2 linked regions of the Homo sapiens genome follow. The protein of the gene in region 1 interacts with the protein of each later gene in a pairwise test. Each region holds a gene or a part of one and is shown on either strand. Other genes may lie near its edges.

Region 1 (4,481 bases):
GATTATTTCACCAAATTAATGTTTAAGATCTCTATCTGGTGTGTCAAACCTTGATTGCATATTGGAATCACCTGGGAGCTTTAAACAGCTTGAAGTCTTCATCCCAACTCCAGAGATTTTGGTTTAATAAATTTGGATGGACATGAGGAGTTTGAAAGTTACCCAGGTGTTTCTACTGTGTAGCTAAGGTTGAAGACCATTTCTCTGTTTCCATAAACCTCAACTTTGGCTGCATGTTCGTATCATCTGGGGCACTACACAAACTTCTGACTCTGAGCTTCTTGTTTAGTTGAAGTGGGGAATGGCCTGATACTTGAGGGTTTTAAAAAAGTTTCTAGATAATTCTAATATAAATATACATTCAGAATCACTGCTTTACCCCATGTATTTCCTGTAAATTGATAGTTAGCTCTAGAGGCTTGATTGAATGTATACTCTTATTGCACTTTATAATCCCATGTTAGATGTTTTAATTTAATGAGTTAGGATGAAATTTCTGTGTTTCACTGAGTTTTATTCCATGTAAGACTAGCTTCACATTTTTCTCCTAATAACATATTTGATTTTTTAATAACCCTACCCCAAACCAGAGCTTCTCCTTAGCATATAAAGTTATTCTCTTGCCATTTGAAAGTGTGTAGACTCTTCAGACATAAACTAACCACCTATAAATCCAGAGTATCAGAATCAAATAGAATTTCAGTGCGGGGATTAAATGAGAACATTTTATAAAACCTTTACACTTTAAATGGTAATCTTAAAATGTATAATTTATTGAAGTATTTCAGAATGATTCTAGAGAAGCCATCTGTCACCAAGATTAGCAGGAATAGACTTACAATGAGGAAACAGGCACCAATCATCACGGCTTTCATTTTAACATCAAGGTCTCTAGGGAATTGGATTCCAAAGTTGTCAGCATCAGTAAATGCCTCTCTTAAAAACCCAGACCAGTGCTTAGAAATCCTGCCAACCACAATTTGTTCATCAAGAGATGTAATCTAAATTGCAAAAAAAAAAAAAACTTAAAAATTTCTAGAAAACTTATAGCAAAATTACTTTTAACACTGGAGTAAAAGGAAGGAAATATTATAGTACATTTATGCACCATACATGAGTATACAGTTAATATGTTATATTAGATGCATATAGGCTCCTGTATATTTATAGATACATAAAAAACTGTTCTATTGTGTAGGAAACTTACATAAAAGTAGTTTTACGAAATTTTTAACATTTTCTACTTTATATTAAGATAGACATTAATATATGTTTTATTTATTTGAATTTAACCCAAACAAAATTTAAGCAGAAAAGGATATAAATTTGAAGTATTTCTTTGATATAATTTCTAGAAGCCATCAGGAAGGAAACAAATGAAACTCCTATTAGACTTCTGCTTTTTAGAGGTGCACAGGGAGTTTACACAGCTGAATGTTTAAATATGAAGAGAGGCCTCACTACCACCCACTGTCAGTAGGAAAACATAAAATGCTAAGAGCCTAGAAAAGAAGACTGACAGTTTGAGTGAAGAAAAGCAACCAGTAAGTAACTTGATGGGATGCCTCAAGTCAAGGGTGTGGGCAAGACCAGCTAACTAGTGGGGTGTGAAGAATAAAAAAAGAATAGGTAGACAAGATCTCCAATGTAAAACTTTTCTATTTTTGTGAAAAAAAATAAAGGTTGTAAAAATTCTGCTGAGGAAAACTGAGGGTCATTATATAGCATTGAAAAGTGTGTGCTCAGACAAAAACACCTCACCAGATGGGCAGGTAGTGGCGGAATATAACTAACATTCACCAAACTACATGTTAAGAGTTATGTCAACCCAAGTCAGGAATGTCATTTTCAAATTTGAACACAGGATCAGAAATATAAATAATGACCTACATATACAGGTCACATGTGTCAGCAACACCCTTTGAAGCCATTGCCTCTGGTTGTGACCATCTAGATAAATGTAGGGAAACTGAAAACATTTGATTCATTTTAGAGTGTTGGTGAAAAGGTTCTTTTTAAAAAGTGAAATAAATGTCTAATATAAAACTGTGATTGCTATGGATTATTCTTCATCAAATATTCATTTCATTTTTCCTCCCATTGTAGTCTGAAGCATTTTCCTATTTCTTCATAATTAGGCTTTGCCTTGTGGCTTGTTTGACCAATGGAATATTAGCAGCTGTAACATGGGCAGTGATCTTACATATGGGTAAGTGGTTTGCTCTGACTCTTGGTCTCAGGTAAATAGCTACTAGAAAAGCATCGTCTAGGTAGCCTCTGCTGCTACATATCCAGAGTGAACATATATCATCTAAGCATTTGAGACTATTAATGAGAACTTTATATTTTTATTTTAAAAATCATTCAAATTTTGAAATATTTACAAAATAAAAAATGCTGAAGGTAACTTACTAGCTACCATAAACCTACTACTAGACTTAACAAATATTTCTCCATTTTGATGGCTATAGCAAGAAATTAAAAAATTCACCAAATTTATGCAAGAAGTAGAAAATAAAATTTTAATGGAGGATCAGAAATATAAATAATGACATGCATATACAGATCATTATAAAGTCTAGATAATTTTTATAAAAAAAATTTATAAAGTATAGATAATTTTAGCTAAATTCTATATAACATTTTAAAAACAAAACAAAAAAATATGGTAAAATTACTTCAACCTCTGGAAATAATACGTTGGTATTTACAACATCATAAGAAGTATACATTAAGTTTTCTTTTTTTTTTTTTTTTTTTTTTTTGAGACGAAGTCTTGCTCTTGTCCCCCAGGCTGGAGTGCAACGGCGCGATCTCCGCTCACTGCAACCTCCTGTTCCCGGGTTCAAGGGATTCTCTTGCCTTAGCTTCCCGAGTAGCTGGGATTACAGGCGCCTGCCACCACGCCTGGCTAATTTTTGTATTTTTAGTAGAGACGGGGTTTCACCATGTTGGCCAGGCTGGTCTCGAAATCCTGACTTCAGGTGATCCGCCCGCCTCGGCCTCCCAAAGTGCTGGGATTACATAAGCCACCGTGCCCGGCCTACATTAAGTTTTTATCCCTGCTTCCTGACACAGAATTTCTAAAATGCTCATAACTTTCTAAGTGATAGGGGTAATAGGAGAGTCTTGTTTTAATATTTGGTCTTTGTCCCAGATTGCTGGCACGCAGCTTCAAAATCCTTAGACTCTTCTAAGCAATAAATCTTTTATATACTAAGATGACTGGTGGTTGGTGGTTGGGGTGCCTGATAGCTTCAGTATCAGGCTGGACACCAGAAAAACCAAGCAATGCTTAGAGGATTGAATCATTCAGTCCTGTCCCCATCCTCCGGAGATGAGAGTAAGGCCAGAGTTTGAGTTATTCACCAATAGCCAGTGGTTTAAATCAGTCATGCCTACATAATGCAACTTCCTAAGAACTCTAAACAACAGGTTCAAAGGCTTTCTGGATTGGTGAACTCACTTGCCATGAAGGTGGCTTACCCCAGTTCCACAGGGACAGATCCCCCTTTGCTCAGAACTCTTCCAGAATTCATCTACTAACCTCTTCATCTGGCTATCCATCTGTATCCTTTATAATAAATCAGTAAACATAAATAAAATATGTTCCTAAATTTTGTAAGTAGTTTTAACAAATTGTCAAACCCATGGAGGAGGTTGTGTGAATCCTGCTTTATAGCTAGTTGGTTAGACGTACAGGAGGTCTTGCATTTGTGGTTGGAATTTGAAATTGGGAACAGTTTTGTGGGACTGAGACCTTAAACTGTGGTGTCTGCATTATCTACAGGTGAGTGAGTGTCAGAATTGAACTGAGTTGTAGGGAACCCAGTTGATGTCTGTAGAGAAGGAGAATTGGTTGACATGGAGAAAAAATATCCACACATTTGGTATCAGAAGTATGAGTAAAAAAAAAGAATTGTAGTGTATTATATTAGCATGAAATTTATAAATCTGTAAATTTAATACTAATAATTGGTAAAGATAGTCTAAAAAACTAAATATTTATTTGCAGTGTAAATATAAATGCAAAAAATGCAAATAGGCCACTAGCACATAGAACCTAGGTAAACATCAAAAGAATATATTAAAATAATGTGTAAGATACTAGAGGAGCACTATATAATTCAAAACATATAATTTATGAATGGTTACTGAAAAGGTATTTTTAAATTACAAACTCAGCATTTGTATAAAATTTGCTATATGCATTATTTTCCTGCATTCTCTAATCGTATGACTATTAGTTACTCTTAGAATCTGGTGTCTGCAGACATAGAGAATTGAAGAGCTACTGAATGAAATCTAAATTTTTAGTATTAAGAATGTTTCACAATTTTTTAGTGATTTACTCATTTCTTAGGAATAAATTATATTCCAATTAGACTTTTATTAATATCATTCCTAGAAGGAGAAATAATCTTTCACTTGTCTGGATTTTTATGGGCATGAAAAGAAAACTATTATTATACATATCCCTA
Region 2 (5,200 bases), on another chromosome or scaffold:
CCATACTTCCTAGGTCCCAGGGGCATAGAAATACAAGCAACAAAACTTTATGTTTATTTGTTTTTAAAAAATATCTACAAGAGGGTGGGTTTGTTCTATAACTAATCATTTTCTGCTTATGAAATATAAACGTGTAAGGCTCAAGCATATTAACCTGGTATTAAAATCTGCCCTTTGTTTCATTCAAAAATTCCTATTTGGAAAGACAATACAGTAGAAATGATAATATGTGGAAACAGATATTTAATACTTGATAATATTCTTTTTCAATCAGCCCCAGACAAATGAGGCACTTTGGGGTATGTGTGTATGTGTGTGTGTCTGTGTGTTTACTTTCAATTAAAATCCTTTTCAATATAGTCCATACTTGATTGCAAGATGGGTGAGAACTTTCAAGTGATCAGAGAATCTTAGAGGGAGGTGATATGAACACATTGGGAAAAGAATGGCCCTGTCCCTGAATGTATAAATCACATCTGCATCATGAAATTCCATTTTATGCAATTTGCTAATAGGGGTGTTGATTTTTTTCTTGTTCTTTGACATATTGTGACTAATCCTGAATCATCTACCATGTGCTCAGACTCTGCTAATTGCTGTACAAAGTCTCCACACAGAACTGATTCACTTTTGAACTGTCTGGCTGACTTGCTTAAGTTCAATACACAAAATATGTCATATGCTAGGCTTATCGTAAACATTTTACGTGCTAATTTTTGGCCACCTAGTAAAGAGGCTTCCACATCACACAGGACCTCATTTAAGGACATGTTCAGTGTTCCCAGTTGAAAAAGTTCACAAGTATTAGGCTAAATACAATTCTCTTCAACACTGCTCAGTCTAATAAAGAAATCAGTAACAGACCTATGTACCTAAGTGAAAAAACACAATAGTGAGGTCCTATTTCCAAAGCTATTCTGTACCTTTCTTAATACAACCTTGTTATTGCAGCATAAACACAAAGAAGTCTGGACCTATTATAAAACCAAGTGAGAACCAACCCCCCCCGCCCCAAAAAAAAAATGCTGGGCTGTTGTTGCTGTGGATTTTGGTTTTTTTAACCTCACGTCTGCCTGAGTCAGGTTCACTGAATTCATCAACCTTTTCTTTGGTTTCCTGTGCACATTATAAATCCAGAAGGCTCTGATCCCAGGGATTGTTCTAACTCATAATTAGGAAACGTGAGCCCATTTCAACCACACTTCAAAGACAGGGAAGGAGGGGGAACGTAAATTCCTCTTTCTAAATCGAACCATCACAGAACTCGGCATTTCAACTGTCTTCATCTATTATCAGATCCAAAGCAACATAACCTCAGTGATTCTGGAAGAACTCAGAGAACAGACAATTCATGTAATTAAAAGACTTTGTGCGTGATAATTGGCTTTGAAGTTTCTGAGAGAGATCTCATCTCAAAAATCTTTGCAGAAAAATATGGGTACAGGGTTCTTGCAGCACGTATTAGAGACTGCTGAGACGCTTCACTCTCCTCCCAGTGTATCTATCTGCAGGAAAGGGGCACGGGTGGGGGAACCACACACAAGCAGCCCAGGTCAATCATGAGAAAGAATCTCCCGCACAAATCACACCATTTCTCTTCAAGGAAGAATGACTGTCCAGAGCTTCCAAACTTGCTCTTCCCATGACAGACAGGGATGCTGGCAGAAGAGAAGAGGAAACATTGAGGAATTCCTGCCTTGACACATGGCTTCAAGTCAGGGCTCCGCTGGGAAAATTCGGGTCACAACTTGTAGCTGAAACTCCACGTGCACCCTGCGGGGCCGCTGCTGCTCCCAGCACCCTACGGAAGGGTGAGCGCCAGACCCTGTGCCCAAACCTCACAGCGGCAGACCTGGAGAAACCCATCCCCCTTCTTCAGAGCCGCCCCCCAGGCTATATTTTTGGCAGCCTATAATACACAAAATAGTATTCCCATACAACAGGAGTGCTCCAAAATTATTTCCAAATAGGTCAGTGCCACCAGGGAAAGTCAATCCCAAATTCCAGAAATCTCCCTGGTCATCTCAATCCCCTCCTCCCCCGACAGCCGGCTCGGCCCTCCAGAGGCCACCTTTCCTCTCAAGGGTCCCCACGCCCTCTCCCTTTACAGAAAAGGCTTTCAGGAAACAGCCTTCCTTTCCTTTCGGCTCCTTAGTAGTCTCACCTAAGGCCTCCCACCCAAGTGCTCCAGGACAAGCACCTTCGGCCAAGGGGCGTCCGAGGAGCTTGGCTGCCGCACGAGCGCACGTTCACACGCGCGCACACACACATGCACACAAGCGCGCACACACACTTGCACACGAGCCCTCTCTCCCGGCCGCCCCCATCCTCCACACACTCCCACACACTCACTCCAGGCGAAGTTAGTCCCCGGGCCCTGGCGGCCGCGGCGTCCTCACCTTTGGAAAACAGGGCGGCCAGGCTGATGAGTACCGGCGACCAGTGGTGCCACAGCGTCCCCATCTCAGACGGGCACATCCTGGAGACCCGGAGCGCAGATCCTCCGCTCCCCGGCGCCGTCCAGGCGAACAAGAGACCGTCTCAGTCCCCTAGAGGCCCGCAGCGGGGCCGGTGGCGAGGGAGCGCCCGGCTAGGGGCCCGAGCAGCCCGGGCGCCCTGCTCCCTCTTCCCGCCAGTCCATGGCCAGGCCGGGAGGCGACGACCGCGCGGGCTCCTGAGTTGCTCTCCGGAGTCCAACACGCGCGCAGGCAAACCCCACCTCCCTCCTTCGACCCCAACAGAATTTTTTTTAAATTTTAATCCACAGGGGGTATTTCCTTTCCTGTTTACCCGAGCGAAGAGTGGCCCCCGGTGGCCCAAGGAGGGGCGCCTCCAGGCGCAGGGCTCCGGCGGCTCCAGCTGCTCCCGGGCTGGCTAGCGGGCGCTGGCGCAGGCGGCGCCGGGGTGGCGGGGCTGCGGAGCCCGGGACGCGGGCAGAGGCGGCTCGGAGCCCCCCGGGCGGGTGGCCGGGCTCGCTGGGCGGCCCGGGGCTCCCTGGCCCGCAGCCCCCATCCCAGGCCGGCCGCTGCGCCTCGGGGCTCGGGCGCGCGCGCGCTCCGGCACCCAAAGTTTGGCGGGTGCGGCTGCTCCCCGGCCGCCGCCTCGGCCCGCCCGGCCCCGGGCCCGGCTGGGGCTCGCGGGGCTCTACGCGCGCCGAGCGCACTGCAGGCTCCGGAGACGCGGGGCTCCCCCCTGCGCCCGGGGGAGGCGGGCCAGATGTGCGCGGAGGAGGGCCCGCCGGCTCGGGGACGCGGCCGAGCAACGCAGCTGCCTCCTGCCAGCAGGCGCGGGGGCTCCGCTCCGCAAGGACCGCATCCGGAACGGAACGGAGGCGATCGCCACGGTGCCCGGAGCCGGCTGGGGCTTTCGCCTTAAAAATTTGTCTGCTTTTAAAAAGCCCCACCCTTTCGGAGTGACAGCTGTGAGCCCCAATCCGCAAAGTAAATCCCACCTCCCCCTGGCCGCCCCACGCCCAGCCTCCCGGCCACCCTCCCTGCGAGCGCGGACGCGCGGTGGCGGCGGGCGAGGGCTCCCAGCGCGGGCGCACCCCGGGGACGGAGCCACCCACTCTCCCAACAGGTGTCCAGCTGGCCACCGGCCTCTCGTCGTCATCAAAACCTCAGGCCCAGGGGAGGTCCTCCAGCCCGGGGGCACCTGAGGCTCTTCGCCAGGGAGAGCGCAAGGATGGCTGGAGAAGGGCCCTCGCCCCGCCCTGCGCATCTCCCAGGGATCGCAGTGAGGAAGTCTCTGACACGCCACACTGAGGTCATGCTGGCCCCAAGCCCCTTCCCAGAGCGATCCCCCAAGTTAGTGTCCCTAGAAACATGTCGTGTGCTCCCCAGGGCTCACTGGGAAAGGAAATGGATCCATTAGGAGACAACATTGCTTTGAGAAGATAAAAGACATGATTCTCAACACCGCCCGGAATCTCCAACTAAGACATTCCCACACCAAGATCCCTAAGCACCGTCCTGTAATTTGTAGCCCAAGAACTGCTTTGCTCCACGAGAGCCTTTAAATTAACCCCATCAAAGCTCAGAGGGAAGAAAAGCATTCAGAATTTTTAAGGAATATTGTAAACCAACAAGCCCTGAATCTAATGAGGTGAATTCACCTCAGTAGATAAAAATGGGTCGTTATCATCTGACTGAGGGGGCAATGGACTTTTTTATCCTGTATGCCTGTAGTTGCAGAAATATACCAATGCTTTAAGAGTTTTTAGCTTTCAAAGTTTCAAGGAAGATCAAAAAAGCCACTGCTGTTCTACCGAAGATTGTTTTTCTGGGTTCATGTCCTTTGAGATGTGCTCTTGTCTTTTATTCTGTATCTACTTATCTGAATATATCTGTCTTTCTGTTTTTTCTTTTGTTTGTTTCTTAAACTTGTTGCCTTTTCTCTTTGTATTGCTCTCCTGTAAAATTCCTAAGAGTCGACGCTGCAAAGACCCTAAGAGATTGTCTCTTTCACTGTTTCTGAAGTTTGAACCAGCAGGAGAGTCACTGGAAAATTTGTTAGACCTGGGTTGCTGGGCCCACCCCAGAGCTATCTCGGCAGGTCAAGGTGGGACTTCCGATCTCCGTTCCTAAAAAGTTCCAGGTGATGCTGATGCTGCCGGCCTGCGGAACACGTGCTGGAACCACTGGTCCCCTTTCTCCTTCACCTGAGTGATGAGAGAGCTGAGCTTTCGTCTCTTGGACACCTTCACCTGGTCTCTGAGTGTCAAAATTGATGCCCGCACTGAATGCATAATCCAGGTTCCATCCTTAACGCTACAGTGGGTCTGAGTCTATTTGTAAATCATCTATTTGTGACACTGAGTCTATTTGTAAGACATTTCTCAGACATATTGACTAGAAACAAGTGGTCCCTGTTCTTTATTAAAAACAATCATTTTATGTTTCTCTAAATCAAATTGAGTTTTTCCCCTGAATTGCAATCATCAAATAACTTTTCTTTTTGCCATTGCAGAAGGTTTCTCTATCTGTAATGTGAAGACAAAAGGTGACTGTCAAGTTCCAGCTGCTGCCTAAAATGTTAAACGGTTTCTTCATTATGCGTAGTTGGCGAAACAAAAGTTTTTTCCACTCTTTGGTATGGAAGATTTTTTGGGAAGATGCAACTTCAGATACCTAATCAGTGGCTAAAATAAGATGCAAGAATGGCTTCTTACTTTTTCTCTCTCCAGTATGCCATTCTCCCT

Evidence for each region. Proteins that work in one complex are often made in the same cells at the same time.
Region 2: the proteins of PLSCR2 (region 1) and TMEM132D interact in a two-hybrid assay, tested with the Homo sapiens proteins (one large-scale study listed by BioGRID).

What each region holds. Positions count from the first base shown.
Region 1 is NC_000003.12:146,448,367-146,452,847, forward strand, and holds part of PLSCR2 (phospholipid scramblase 2), read right to left. Parts: intron 1,002-4,481; coding exon 840-1,001; intron 1-839. UniProt on the Homo sapiens protein: May catalyze calcium-induced ATP-independent rapid bidirectional and non-specific movement of phospholipids (lipid scrambling or lipid flip-flop) between the inner and outer leaflet of the plasma membrane.
Region 2 is NC_000012.12:129,900,862-129,906,061, forward strand, and holds the start of TMEM132D (transmembrane protein 132D precursor), read right to left. Parts: upstream 3,165-5,200; 5' UTR 2,479-3,164; coding exon 2,400-2,478; intron 1-2,399. UniProt on the Homo sapiens protein: Regulate neuronals morphology via inhibition of the WAVE regulatory complex (WCR), a complex that controls F-actin cytoskeletal dynamics.